Linked DNA regions of Homo sapiens. The protein of the gene in region 1 interacts with the protein of each later gene in a biochemical or structural test. Each region holds a gene or a part of one and is shown in the gene's direction. Other genes may lie near its edges.

Region 1 (3,500 bases):
AATTCACTCATGCTCAAGTCCTAGAGTGCCCTGCAGAACCCATGGAGGAGAAAAGTTGGCCCTGCACATCTGTGGGTCTCGCATCCTGAGATTTTTTTTTTTTTTTTTTGGTGGGATTTTTCTTTCTTTTTCTTTTTTGAGACAGAGTCTTGCTCTGTCCCCCAGGCTGGAGTGCAGTGTCACAATCTCAGCTCACTGCAACCTCCATCCCCAGGTTCAAGCGGTTCTCGTGCCTCAGACTCCCAAGTAGCTGGGGTTGCAAGCATGGGCCACCACACCCGGCTAATTTTTTTGTATTTTTAGTAGAGGTGGGGTTTCACTATGTTGGCCAGACTGGTCTCAAACTCCTGGGTTCAAGTGATCCGCCTGCCTCAGCCTCCCAAAGTGCTGGGATTACAGGCATGAGCCACCACACCTGGCCTGAGAATACTATATTTTTTATCTGAGTTTGGTTGAATTCTCAACTGCAGAGCCCACAGGTGTAGAGAGCTAACTGTATTTATTGAAAACATCTGTGTATAAGTGGACCCGCATACTTCAAATCGATTGTTCAAGGGTCACCTGTGTTGTGGTTTTTATTTTATGTGTCCTTAAGAGTTAGGCAGAGTTTATTTTGCAGTTACTAGGAAGTCATCAAATGGAAGCCTCTTTCATTCATGTTATTTCAACATTCTTTGAGCATCTTTCAAGGTCTACCAGTCCCGGAGCCTTCCAGCTACATCCTGGAGGGGCTGGAGGGTTCCGCTTATATTTGTGGGTGGGTGCAGGCCTGGCCTGTAGAAAGAAGGAAAGCACACAGGAAGCAGAAGTGGGCCCAGGCAGCGGGCTTTCTGGCTGGTGCTGGAGAAAAGGCGCTGAACCGGATCTGTCAACTTCAGTTACAGCTGGCTCTGAGCAGTGAACCTCTCTCCTTGTTCCTTACTGACTGAGAACTTACAAGGCTTTCCTCGGCCCCAGCTTCTTCCCATGCAATAGTCTTCAGGAAGAAGAGCTGGAATAGCATCCTTACCCATTGCCAGAGCCACCTGGGCAGCACAGATGGAAGTTGTACAACTTGGTGAAGTCCATGTCACAGCGAGAAGCAGGCGTGGGGCTTCGGACCTGCTGGGTGCCACTTCATATTCCCTTGACCTTCCTGTGGTCACCTAGGCTGTCTGCGAAATTCCTGGAATCCCAGTGGCCCCGCTCTTCCATCTCTGTGCATTTTTTGTGCACCCTTTGCATATAGAGCACCAAGTGACACTGGCAGTGAGTGTAAGGATTGCTTAGCCTTTCTGTGCCTGGCCACCTCAACCTCCAGGTACAGTAAAAACTAATTCCAATGAAGGTCAGTGGAGGCAGGGAGCCTGACTGAATTTTATAGCGATGGGCAACCTCCTCCCAACATTTTATTATGAAAATGTTTCAAACATACAAAAAGTTGAAGGAATTTTACAGCAATAGTCATTAGCCCACCACCTAGATTTTACAGTTAACATTTTGCATAGTTGTGGCGGGGTTTCAAATGTCTGTAACTGCACAGTTCTTTGTACAAATGAAACTTCATGGGAGAAGCCCATCACGTGTTGAGCAGTGCTTTTAGAGGATGGGGGTCCTGCCCTGCTCTTTAACAGGAAGATGGTCTTCTGGTCGTTTCCCATGTGTCCTGGCATGTGCACATACCACGCTACTTCTGGACCTGCTGCAGCACCCACCTGCTAAAAGAGAAAGCCTGGCCGGGGGCTTGGAGCTGCTCCCTCAGTCTTGCATTCCTTCTGTCCCCTCCTCTCCAGGCGGTGTCTCAGGGCAGCAGCGACTCTCAGATCCTGGATCTCTCAAATCGCTTTTACACCCTGATCCCCCACGACTTTGGGATGAAGAAGCCTCCGCTCCTGAACAATGCAGACAGTGTGCAGGTAGCGCAAGGGTTCAGAAGGGACTGCAGGTCTGCTGGGCTGGGGTGTGACTACCTTGCAGCCGTCCCTCCCCATCATGATCCCTGAGGGCAGCACCAATGCTGGGAGGGCCACCCTCTTGCCCTTGTTTTGAAGTTGGGTTTCTACCCACATTGATGGAGGCAGAGCTGTTTTTCCTGCCCCTGTTCTACCAAATCCACTGGGGAAAGAGCTGTTGGAGAGGGACAGCCTCTCCCTCATAACAGCATCTTCCTCCCCATTTTCCCTCCCTGCCTTTTAAGACAGCTCCTGGCTCAGGACCCATTTGTCTAAAGTACCTTCACTGTAGGTCCCAAATGTCAGCATGTACGAGAGGAAAGACAGTTCTTCCACCTCTCAACTCCCCCAGGCCACAAGGCCTTGTTAACATTCCAGAAAGTCCTTATGAGCTCTCAATATGTGCAGCAGGTAACAGGCTGGCCCTGACCAGCAGGAGGGTTTGCCATTCACTGTGTTGGACCTTCTCTGCATGTAGGTTTTCTCTGCCACCTGGGTGAGTCTGTCTCATTCACCATGATACCTAAGTCGGGGGCTTTCTTTTGCTCCTCCAGGCCAAGGTGGAAATGCTTGACAACCTGCTGGACATCGAGGTGGCCTACAGTCTGCTCAGGGGAGGGTCTGATGATAGCAGCAAGGATCCCATCGATGTCAACTATGAGAAGCTCAAAACTGACATTAAGGTAACAGGGTCAGGCCTTCCTCAAGCATCTTAACCTCTCATCCTGAGAGCAGCGGTCCCAAACTTCCATGTGTGTTAGGATCTCCTGGAAAGCTTGTTAAAACACAGGTGGCTGGCGCCCAATAATTCACTTTTCTAACAAGTTCCCGGACATTGCTGCTGGTGGTCCTTTGAGAACCTTTGGGCGTTTCACGTGTAGATAATGCACCTTGTTTGCAAGGCAGCCTTCCAAGCCAGCACCTCAGCTTGGCGTACAAATTTATTTTTGAGGGTCTTACCAAAAGTTCTTTTTTGTTTGTTTGTTTGTTTGTTTCCTCTCCTTAATCTAGAGAGGAGCTCTGTTTTTCTAAACCCTTGTAGCGTGAACTTTTAGAAGACTTATTACCGGTGTCCATTTCAGAAGTGGAAATGCTTGATGGCACCTGTAATAAAAACACAATGCTTGCGTTCATTTTTCTCTGGTGCTGAAGTGGACTGTGTTGGCACACACAGTCTCTGAACACCCCGCTTAGACCAACTAGAGGAGGGATTTTTGCCTCAGCTTCTAGATGGCCCGGTCCTTGAGCCTATCTCCACACTCATGTGCCCCATTGTCCTCAGCCCATTCCCTGCAGTGTTGCAGGGGTTTGGGTGGGCGAGAGTATGTTGAGTCTGGTACCAGGTGTTTACATCGCTAAAGAAAGAGCCTTGGCTTCTTTCCTAGGACAAAGTATAGACCTATGGGTCCAAGCAGGGTAAGACACCACATGTCATTTGTTTTGCCCCTAGAGCACCTTCCTGATGGGAAAACTGTAGGTGTGGTTCTTCGTGAAGGGATTCTTATTCTCTTTTTACAATTCTGAAGCCTTTTAATTAAAAGACAGGGAGGTAGACCAGCATTCTAGGTT
Region 2 (3,500 bases), on another chromosome or scaffold:
CCTTTTCTTGGTACATAAAGAATTCTGATGCTTCTGGTGGTGTTCCTCAGCTGTGAAACAGAAGACCACATGTACTTGAAAAAGTATGTATTTTGATGCCTAAGGGATATGCTGTGTACAAATACTTAGAGTGTGGAAGACATCTTCCTCTTTGCCAGTTGCTGATGAGGATGAACAAAAATCAAGTCAGTGGCACAGAAATTCTTTTGTAGGTATTACTACTTGTTATTTGTAGTCTTCTAAGGAACATAGGAAACATGAAAAACACATTTTTGTACGTTGGCTATTTTATATGGTTCAGCCTTTTTAAAAACTTGCTTTATTCATTAGCATCCCAGTTTACTCTATTCCGTCTTCTCCCTGTGGTTTATCAACTTGTAGGTTAAGCACCGCCAATAGTTGAATCTAGGGTTGACTTATTCTTGCTACTTGGCAGGCATTTGGGCTACTTTTTTTTTCTTTCATCCATTTTTGTATAGTTTTGATAAAAACTAAAAAGGAAAACAAAAAAGCAAGTTAGTTTTGATATTAAGTCAAATACTACTAAAAAGGTAAATCTGCAGCTCCTCATCATACAATTTAGTGAATTTTTACCTTCACTTATTACTTTAATAAGGACATAAGTTCAAAATGTGTCCTTTATTTCAAGCCATATTCATTACAGGAAAAAAAAAAAATCAAGGGAGAGCTGTTTAGGGAATTAGCCTGTGTAGCCCCCAATTCTGGTTTTTGTTCTGATGATCCCTGAAGCTACACTCTTTATGAGAGTTGGGCGTGTGTGTGTCTAAGTCTTCCTTTTCTTTTCTTTTCTTTTTTTTTTTTTTTTTGAGACGGAGTCTTGCTCTGTCACCCAGGCTGGAGTGCAGTGGCGTGATCTCAGCCCCCTGCAACCTCTGCCTCCCAGGTTCAGGTGATTCTCCTGCCTCAGCCTCCCGAGTAGCTGGGATTACAGGCACATGCCACCACACCTGGATAATTTTTGTATTTTTAGTAGAGACAGGGTTTCACCATGTTGGTCAGGCTGGTCTCGAACTCCTAACCTCGTGATCTGCCCACCTAAAGTGCTGGGATTACAGGCGTGAGCCACTGGGCCCAGCCTAAGTCTTCCTTTTCTTTTCTTTTTCTTTTTTGAGATGGAGTCTTGCTCAGTCATCCAGGCTGGAGTGCAGTGGTGCAATCTTGGCTCACTGCAAGCTCCGCCTCCCGGGTTCACGCTATTCTCCTGCCTCAGCCTCCTGAGTAGCTGAGACTACAGGCGCCCACCACCACGCCCGGCTAATTTTTTTTTGTATTTTTAGTAGAGACGGGATTTCACCGTGTTAGCCAGGATGGTCTCCATCTCCTGACCTTGTGATCCACCCGCCTCGGCCTCCCAAAGTGCTAGGATTACAGGCGTAAGCCACTGCGCCCGGCCACGTCTTCCTTTTCTTAGCTTTGCTTTGAGAAATCGTTTCTTATCTTGGATTCCATTACAATGGTCCTCCTGCCATCTGGCTTCTCCAGTTGGTTCGCTTATTTTTCCTTCTCCTATCCTCATTCATAAGTATACCTCAGGACTAGTTGTGGACTTTTTCTCTGGTATTTTCTTAGGTAACTTACTCTCTGTTGCCTTGTGTATCCAGTTACCTAAAGGCTCTGGAGGTCCCACTTTTATCTCAAATCCAGCATGTCTAAAACTGAACATACTGTATTTCCCCCTGCCCTCAGATGGCTCATTTCAAGGTCCCCAGTTGGGTTAATGGTCTAGTTAGTTCTTTCCCTAGTTTTCAAACCTTGGTGTCTTCTTGAGCACTCTCCTGGTGTTTAGTGTTCCCAAGTCTGTTAACTCTTCTTTCTCAGGGTCTGTTGAGACTTTCCGTTCCTACCCGCTAACCATTCCCCTCGTTTAGCTTTTAGTATTTCAGGCCTAGACGCTCCTGTCCCCAGAGCTTAGATCATCTTGAGCCCTGAAATTCAGCAGATCTTGCTCAGTGTGCAAGGTTCAAGTCAGTTCACCAACTTCCAATCTTGGCTCCTACCCAGAGGAATTTTTGTCCTCTGAGTGAATATCTGGTAATCTTTTAATTCATGCTGCTGTGTATTATATATAATTTAACTTTAATGTCTGTATGTCTTGGCTTCTCAGTTACATTGTAAATATGTTGTTAGGAAAAAAATTCTTTCTTGATACATGGGTCTTTTATATTTCAGCTTCCTGTGTGTTGAGAATATCACAGTCTGTATCATGTGAGAATAATTTAAGAAGTAGTATAACTAAAGAACAGTGATTATTTTGTTTTCAACAGATTGTCAGAGTCCTTTTTTTTCCATTTATTTGTTGAATAATTACTGTGTACAAGATGTGCTAGGTGTTTTTGAGTGGTAGCAATGACTCAAAACATAGATCCAGTAGGAAGACTAGATGCAATGTGTAAGTAACTATGATATACAGTGGGAAGAGTTAAGTGTCTTAGAGAAAAATGAAGTTCTGTATTGGCCGTTGAACCAGGCTTTGAAAATGGGAGATTGGGCCTGGCACAGTGGGTCATGCCTGTAATCCCAGCACTTTGGGAGGCCAAGGTGGGCAGATCATTTGAGGTCAGGAGTTAGAAACCAGCTTGGCCAACATGGCAACACCCTGTCACTGCTAAAAATAGAAGAGATTAAGTGAGTGTGGTGGCATGCATCTGTAGTCCCAGCTACTTGTGAGGCTGAGGCAGGAGAATTGCTTGAACTTGGGGCAGGGGGTTGGAGGGGTGGAGGTTGCGGTTAGCCGAGATCACGCCACTGTAGTCCAGCCTGGGCGACACAGCAAGACTCCCATCTCAAAAAAAAAAAAAAAAGAAAAAAAAGGATGGGAGATTGTTCCCTTACGATTTCGCTATGAAAATTTTCAAGCATTCAGCAAAATTGGAAGAATTTCTACTACCTTTTCTACTAATGACATTTCATTATGCTTGCTTGATCATATATCTGTGTAAATGCACATCTTTCTGTCCATTAGTTCATCTTATTTTCAAGATATATTTTTGGGATGGTGGACTGGCATTCATAAAGGCCTGAAAATATGGGAAGCATCAGTTTCTCTGAGTGCGAAGTCAGGAGATTGAGACCATCCTGGCTAACACGGTGAAATCCCGTCTCTACTAAAAAGACAGAAAAAAATTAGCCAAGTGTGGTGGCGGGTGCCTGTAGTCACAGCTACTCGGGAGGCTGAGGCGGGAGAATGGTGTGAATCCAGGAGGCGGAGCTTACAGTGAGCCTGGATCGTGCCACTGCACTCCAGCCTGGGCGACAGAGAGAGACTCGGTCTCAAAAAAAAAAAAAAATTTCTCAGAGTGATAGGCATGTGAAATACACAAACAGTTTGAAAAGTATAGGTAGAAAGGACATATTATGAAAATAATGCTGTGTTATGGACCAAATTTATCAAATGATATCTTTGTTTTTGCCAAATAAGAAATTATGAAAATATGATTACATTAAACAATTTTAAAATGCAACTACTTAGGAACACACTT
Region 3 (4,105 bases), on another chromosome or scaffold:
TGGGGCCCTGGGGTCTCAGCAAACCATGGCCCTCGGGACCAAACCTGGCGTCCGCCCCTATTGTGAGTGAAGTGTTACTGGCACAGCCACACCCAGGTCTCAGGATCATCCATAGCTGCTTGGTTTGGTTTGGTTTTGTTTTTGAGACACAGTCTTGTGTTGCCCAGGCTGGAGTGCAGTGGTGCGATCTCGCCTCCTGGGTTCAAGTGATTCTCCTGCCTCAGCCTCCTGAGTAGCTGGGACTACAGGCTCCCACCACCATGCCCAGCTGATTTTTGTATTTTTAGTAGAGATGGGGTTTCACCATGTTGGCCAGGATGGTCTCGAACTCCCAACCTCAGGTGATCGCCCGCCTCGGCCTCCCAAAGTGCTGGGATTACAGGCGTGAGCCGCCGCGCCCGGCCTAAATTTATTTATTTTTGAGACAGGGTCTTGCTCTGTCACCCAGGCTGAAGAGCAGTGGTGCAATTACGGCTCACTGCAGCCCCAACCTGGGCTCAAGCGATCCTCCTGCCCCAGTCTCTCAAAGTGCTGGGATTACAGGTGTGAGCCACCGCCTTCGGCCAGTGTCTTTATTCATGAAGACCAAAAACTAGAACAGCGCAAATATCCGTCCGCTGGTGAATGCATAAACACAGCGTGGTCCAGCCACACAATGGGATGTGACACAGCCACAAAAAGGAGCGAGGCTCTGACACAGGCCACAGCCTGGATGCACCTTGAGGACGTCATGCTGGGAGAGACGCCAACGCAACAGGTCCTGTGTGATTCCACTCCTGGGAGGTCCCTAGAGACCAATTCAGAGGCAGGAAGTAGTGGCCGGGCGCGGTGGCTCATGCCTGTAATCCCAGCACTGGGAGGCCGAGGTGGGTGGATCACCTGAGGTCGGGAGTTTGAGACCAGCCTGGTCAACATGGTGAAACCTCGTCTCTACTAAGAATACGAAAATTAGCCGGGCGTGGTGGTGGGCACCTGTAGTCCCACTACTCGGGAGGCTGAGGCCGGAGTATGGCGTGAACCCGGGAGGCGGAGCTTGCAGTGAGCCGAGATCGCACCACCGCACTCCAGCCTGGGCGACAGAGCGAGACTCCATCTCTGAAAAAAAAAAAAAAAAAAAAGTGTTACTTTGTCAGGTGTGATGATGGTAGTGTGGCTTCATCTCGAGTCCTCTTTGAGAAACACTTTCTAAAATGCTCAAGGATGGAGGGTGGAGGGTGTGCAGCGGTGGGCGGGGCTGTGACCGTCACCTCACCTCCCCCACAGGAAGCGCGTGTGGGGAGGCTCGGGGCCGGGGCCAGCACCCACACTGGGTCTCCACAGCGGCATGGAGGCCTGCGTGTCTTCACTGCTGGTGCTGGCCCTGGGGGCCCTGTCAGTAGGTGAGTGGGAGCCGGGATGCAGGGGGGACACTGAGGCCCAGCGCTCTCGGTGGGTCCCTGGATGGGAGGGGTGGGCGCGGGCGCCGACATCCTGGGTGTAAGAGCGGAGATTCATCCTTGTTTGGAGGGGGACTGAGGCCTGGGGCATCCCGAGCTCCTCACGCTTCACCCCGAGTGGACATCCCGGGACCGTGGGAGAGTGTGGTGTCCACCGGCTCACCTCGCCCATCCTCCCGGCAGCAGCCAGAAGGCAGGGGTCACGCTCACACCCGAGGTGCAGAGTAGGAGACTGAGACTTGGCGAAGGAGATGCTGACCTAGGACTGCCCAGCTGGGAGGGCAGAGCTGGGACTCGATCCCCGCTGGCTGCCTGCCACCACCAAGGGCTTGGCTGGGACTAGGTGCCCAGCAGTGAGGGAGAAGGGAGGTGGGTGGCGGCTCCCCTGCATTCCAGCTGGACTGAGTGACAGGGGCTCTTGATGAGTTGGGGACCCAAGAAGATGGACAGAGGTAGGAATCCAGCCGTCAGTCATCATCATCCTTCCTCCCATTTTTATTTCCTTCCACCCATGGGTCCATCATCCCTCCCTCCCTCCCTCCCTCCCTCCCTCATCTCCCCTTCCTTCCCTCTACCCGTCCGTCCACCCATCATTCCTCCTTCCATTCTTCCACCCACCCATCCATCATCCATCCCTCTACCCATGGGTCCATCATCCATCCCTCCCTCCCTCCTTTCGTTCCCCCTTCCTTCCCTCCGCCAGTCCATCCACCCATCATTCCTCCTTCCTCCCATTCTTCCACCCACCCGTCCATCCATCATCCATCCCTCCTTTCAACCTCCCTCCTTCCCTCCACCCGTCATCCTTCCCTCCCTCCTTCCATGTATCCACCCATCCATCCATCATGCCTCTCTCTTCCTTTCCCCCCTCCTTCCCTCCTCCCTCCCATCCATCCATCATCCATTCCTCCTTCCATCCCTCCTTCCTTTCTCCCGTGCTTCTGTGTATCCATCCGTATTTGCAGGGCTCGTGCTGTTCTAGGCCTGCCCTCCTGTCTGACTGGAAGAGACAGGCCAGGCATGAGACTGTGCAGAGCGGAGGAAACACGGAGGGCAAGAGGGCGGGTGGGGGGCCGTTGCAGGAGACGAGCATAAACCAAGGGAGGAAGCCGGTGGGGGAAAGGTACGCAGGCAGCTAAGTGAGACAGACAAAGGCCCAGGGTGCAGGCAGCTTGCAGGCACAGCTAGACTTGCACTCTTGTCACCCAGGCTGGAGTGCGATGGTGCCATCTCGGCTCACTGCAGCCTCCGCCTCCTGGTTTCAAGCGATTCTCCTGCCTCAGCCTCCCGAGTAGCTGGGATTACAGGCGCCTGCCACCATGCCGGGCTAATTTTGTATTTTTAGTAGAGACAGGGTTTCCCCGTGTTGGTCAGGCTGGTCTCAAACTCCCAACCTCAGGTGATCCGCCTGCCTCGGCCTCCCAAAGCGCTGGGATTACAGGCGTGAGCCACCGCGCCCGGCCTATTTTTTTTTTTTAAGATGGAGTTCTGCTATTCTTGCCCAGGCTGGAGTGCAATGGCACGATCTCGGCTCACCACAACCTCTGCCTCCCGGGTTCAAGCGATTCTCCTGTCTCAGCCTCCCAAGTAGCTGAGATTACAGATGCCCGCCACCTCGCCCGGCTAATTTTTTGTATTTTTAGTAGAGACGGGGTTTCACCGTGTTAGCCAGGATGGTCTCGATCTCCTGACCTCGTGATCCACCTGCCTCGGCCTCCCAAAGTGCTGGGATTACAGGCGTGAGCCACCGCACCCGGCCTTAATTTCTGTATTTTTAGTACAGACGGGGTTTTACCACATTGGCCAGGCTGATCTCCAACTCCTGACCTCAGGCTGTCTGCCCACCTTGACCTCCCAAAGTGCTGGGATTATAGGCGTGAGCCACTGCACCGGCCCGCAAGCGGGGACTTGATTTTCAAAGCATGATGGGGATTCAGAGAAGATTTTGAGCTGATTTACGTTACATTATGAAATCAATCCTTTTATATTTATGATTGATTTAAAATAATTTTTGTACAGCTTTATTAGGAAATTATGCACTATACAATTTACTTATTTAAAGACTACATTTCTTGCTGGGCACAGTGGCTCACGCCTGTCATCCCAGCACTTTGGGAGGCCAAGGAGGGTGGATCACCTGAGGTTAGGTGTTTGAGGCCAGCCTGGCCAACACGGCGAAACCCTGTCGCTACTAAAAATACAAAAAAATTAGCCGGACGTGGTGATGCGCTTCTGTAATCCCAGCTACTCGGGAGGCTGAGGCAGGAGAATCGCTTGAACCCAGGAGGCAGAGGTTGCAGTGAGCTGAGATCACGGCACTGCATTCCAGGCTGGGTAACAGAGTGAGACTCCATCTCAAAAAAAAAAAAAAAATGGCCAGGTGCAGTGGCTCATACCTGTAATCCCAGCACTTTGGGAGGCTGAGATGGGTGGATCACAAGGTCAGGAGTTCGAGACCAGCCTGGCTAACATGGTGAAACCCCATCTGTACTAAAAATACAAAAATTATCCAGGCGTGGTGGCAGGTGCCTGTAGTCCCAGCTACTCGGGAGACTGAGTCAGGAGAATGGCATGAACCCAGGAGGCGGAGCTTGCAGTGAGCCGAGATCGTGCCATTGCACTCCAGCCTGGGTGACAGAGCGAGACTCTGTCTCAAAAAAAAAGAAAAA
Region 4 (3,500 bases), on another chromosome or scaffold:
AGTTCACAGTTTTGAACAGTGCAGGGTAGTTCCATTGTATTATTACTATTATTTTCAAGACAGGGTCTTGCTCTACCGTCCAGGCTGGAGTGCAGTGGCATAATCTCGGCTTACTGTACCTTCCGCCTCTTGGTCTCAAGCGATCCTCCCAGGTAGCTGGGACTATAGGCGCAGGCCAGCACACCTGGCTAATTTTTGCATTTTTGGTAGAGGTGGCGTTTTCCTATGTTGCCCGGGCTGGTCTTGAACTCCTGAGCTCAAGCGATCCTCCTGCCTTGGCTTCTCAAAGTGTTGGGATTATGGGCGTGAGCCACCGCGTCTGGCCGCGATTTTATTATAAACATTAAAAATACTAGCTTTTAGGAAAACGATATTAACTGCCTGGTGACCAGCCCACCAAAGCCTGCTTTAGAGTTGACGGCCTCAGGAGTCCTCACACAGCCTTGGAAGACCCCATTCCAGGCCTGTGATGCGAGGGAGGGAAGGAAGGGGGTAGAGTTGGAAGCAGGCAGCACCGTGGCTGGACTGGCATGAGGTGGTTTCTCCAGCAAAAGCTCCCTTTCCTCAGGAGGAAGCTGGCCCAGTTGCAGGTGGCCTATCACCAGCTCTTCCAAGAATACGACAACCACATCAAGAGCAGCGTGGTGGGCAGTGAGCGGAAGCGAGTGAGTGCGACCACTGGGGCTCTAGGGCTGGCCTTGCCTCTTCCTCTCCCCGTGGCCCTGAACCTTGAGAATGGGTAGACCTGCCTTAGACTTGCCTTAGACCTGTGTCAGGCTGCAGCTGCGACAGCTCAGGGAAGCTGTGGGGAGATGGCAACCCCAGGATGTTGCTCTCAGGAGTGTCAGCAGGCCATCTTAATGGGGGGCTGGGCCAGAGCCTTGGGGTGCTCCCTCTGTGGGGCTGGGGACGTCTTGTCTCCATGGACATTCCCTCTTGCCAGCCATCGCCATCTGGCACCTGGCTCAGCTTCCCCCAAGCCAAGGTAAGCCCGACAGCATTTCCACCCCAGTGTTGGCTGGGAGCCTTTTCCTAGTTTGTCCTCATCAGACCTAAGCTGGGGTGCAGTTTGCTAGTGATCACATTTTAGCAGGACACCGTCAATCGTAAGTGTACCCAGAGGAGATTTATAAGGACAAAGCCTGAAGCCAGGTCACATGGGGAAGAGTTAGCTACAAAACTGGCCACTTAATCTCTGGAGGGGGGCGTTGGTGGGGTGTGTCTGTGTGTGTCTCAGGGGGCTGGAGATGCCTGCGTGGGAGGAGTGCACCTCTGACCAGGTGGCAGAGTGGAAGGACTGAGGGCTCTCAGCTGAGCTGTGCACATGGCGGGCACAGGACCGGCTGGCTGTGAGTGGGTGTGGCCTGTGGCCTGTGAAGGGTGGGAGGAGGGCTGTGGAGCTGGGGATTCTGGGAAGGGAATGTCGGCCCAGCTGGGAGGTTGTACCAGATGACCTCAGCGGCCTCTTCAGTCCTGAAAAAAACCTCAGCATCTCCTCTGTCGTTTTGGGCCGTGACAGGACGCAGCCATCTCCCTGTGCACGCTGAGATCCTGCAATGGGCCCTCAAATCAGGGGCTGGCATCACCCAGCCTGGTCAGCCAGGGCCACTCTTTCATCCTTCTCAGTTCTTCTCAGCCAGCCTCGCCCTGGGCTGACGAGGCTCCGTCAGCTCCCCTTGCCCGTCCTTAGGGAATGCAGCTGGAAGATCTCAAACAGCAGCTCCAGCAGGCCGAGGAGGCCCTGGTGGCCAAACAGGAGGTGATCGATAAGCTGAAGGAGGAGGCCGAGCAGCACAAGATTGTGATGGAGACCGTTCCGGTGCTGAAGGCCCAGGTGAGGGCCCTCCTCTCTGACCCACCCTGGCACTGGGACCTGGAGAGTCTCTTTGGCGTCTTTTTTTTTTTTTTTGCTTTTGCTTTTTGAGATTGAGTTTTGCTCTTGTTGCCCAGGCTGGAGTGCCACTAGTGGCACGATCTTGGCTCACTGCAACCTCTGCCTCCCGGGTTCAAACAATTCTCTTGCCTCAGCCTCCTGAGTAGCTGGGATTACAGGCGCCTGCCGCCATGCCCGTCTAATTTTTGTATTTTTAGTAGAGACAGGGTTTCACCATGTTGGCCCAGCTGGTCTCGAACTTCTGGCCTCAGGTGATCTGCCCACCGCAGTCTCTCAAAGTTCTGGGATTACAGGCGTGAGCCACCGCACCCGGCCTCTTTGGCATCATTTTGTAGTGGCCTTTCGTAAGCTTCTGAGCCACTTGTGCTGCTCCTTAGACCTCTCGGTGAGCTTGGCATTACTCGCCGACGTATCTGTTTCCTCTGCGCCGCTGGGGGCTCTGGGAGGACAGCAGTGGGTTCTGCTTTGTTCCTGTGGTGCCTGGCGCAGTGCCTGGTGGGTGGCTGGCTTGTGGCGGGCACATCCCTTTCTGTTGGATTTGCCAGGCGGATATCTACAAGGCGGACTTCCAGGCTGAGAGGCAGGCCCGGGAGAAGCTGGCCGAGAAGAAGGAGCTCCTGCAGGAGCAGCTGGAGCAGCTGCAGAGGGAGTACAGCAAACTGAAGGCCAGCTGTCAGGAGTCGGCCAGGTGGGCCTCTGAGAGCGTGCCCGTGTGAGCAGTGGGTGCGACACTGGGGGGTCGCCAGTGGTGACCCCGCAGTGGGTGCGACACTGGGGGGTTGCCAGTGGTGACCACAGGAGACGGATGGCTCCTGGTGTTCTGGGTTAGGGCTCACTGTGGTCCCTCTCCTCTCACCTGAGCTTCCAAGAGCTGCTTTGACACTAGTCCAGCCAAGGAGCTTTACAGAAATGCGTGGCTTGACTGGACGGTTTCTGTTTCCAAAGGATCGAGGACATGAGGAAGCGGCATGTCGAGGTCTCCCAGGCCCCCTTGCCCCCCGCCCCTGGTGAGTGAGCGAGAACTGGGCCTGCGGGAGGAGGTGGGTGGGGAGGGCAGGTGCTGCGCCGCGGGAGGTCACAGTTCGACCTTCCTGTTGCTCTCTGGAGACTTGACGGCGGGAGCTCGTGTAGGCCACCCCATCGGTAGCCCACCCCCTTCCCCGAGGCTAAGGGAGGCATGCCGTGGTAGCGGCGGCTCCTGGTCTTACATGAGTGGCCTGTGAGACCAGGCCTGCCATTGACAGTCCTGCCAAGTCTCCGTCCCCCTCCATCCTCCCCTTCCCTCTGACTCTTCTCTTTTCCCAGCCTACCTCTCCTCTCCCCTGGCCCTGCCCAGCCAGAGGAGGAGCCCCCCCGAGGAGCCACCTGACTTCTGCTGTCCCAAGTGCCAGTATCAGGCCCCTGATATGGACACCCTGCAGATACATGTCATGGAGTGCATTGAGTAGGGCCGGCCAGTGCAAGGCCACTGCCTGCCGAGGACGTGCCCGGGACCGTGCAGTCTGCGCTTTCCTCTCCCGCCTGCCTAGCCCAGGATGAAGGGCTGGGTGGCCACAACTGGGATGCCACCTGGAGCCCCACCCAGGAGCTGGCCGCGGCACCTTAC

The links.
Region 2: the proteins of PARP1 (region 1) and FOXO1 form a complex in vitro, tested with the Homo sapiens proteins (one study listed by BioGRID).
Region 3: of the proteins of PARP1 (region 1) and GZMM, one has a biochemical effect on the other in vitro, tested with the Homo sapiens proteins (one study listed by BioGRID).
Region 4: the proteins of PARP1 (region 1) and IKBKG form a complex in vitro, tested with the Homo sapiens proteins (one study listed by BioGRID).

The regions. Positions count from the first base shown.
Region 1 is NC_000001.11:226,366,594-226,370,093, reverse strand, and holds part of PARP1 (poly [ADP-ribose] polymerase 1), read left to right. Parts: intron 1-1,772; coding exon 1,773-1,895; intron 1,896-2,485; coding exon 2,486-2,614; intron 2,615-3,500. UniProt on the Homo sapiens protein: Poly-ADP-ribosyltransferase that mediates poly-ADP-ribosylation of proteins and plays a key role in DNA repair.
Region 2 is NC_000013.11:40,656,642-40,660,141, reverse strand, and holds part of FOXO1 (forkhead box protein O1), read left to right. Parts: intron 1-3,500. UniProt on the Homo sapiens protein: Transcription factor that is the main target of insulin signaling and regulates metabolic homeostasis in response to oxidative stress.
Region 3 is NC_000019.10:542,748-546,852, forward strand, and holds the start of GZMM (granzyme M isoform 1 preproprotein), read left to right. Parts: upstream 1-1,305; 5' UTR 1,306-1,324; coding exon 1,325-1,379; intron 1,380-4,105. UniProt on the Homo sapiens protein: Cleaves peptide substrates after methionine, leucine, and norleucine. Physiological substrates include EZR, alpha-tubulins and the apoptosis inhibitor BIRC5/Survivin. Promotes caspase activation and subsequent apoptosis of target cells.
Region 4 is NC_000023.11:154,561,120-154,564,619, forward strand, and holds part of IKBKG (NF-kappa-B essential modulator), read left to right. Parts: intron 1-568; coding exon 569-665; intron 666-1,690; coding exon 1,691-1,834; intron 1,835-2,439; coding exon 2,440-2,582; intron 2,583-2,839; coding exon 2,840-2,901; intron 2,902-3,199; coding exon 3,200-3,342; 3' UTR 3,343-3,500. UniProt on the Homo sapiens protein: Regulatory subunit of the IKK core complex which phosphorylates inhibitors of NF-kappa-B thus leading to the dissociation of the inhibitor/NF-kappa-B complex and ultimately the degradation of the inhibitor.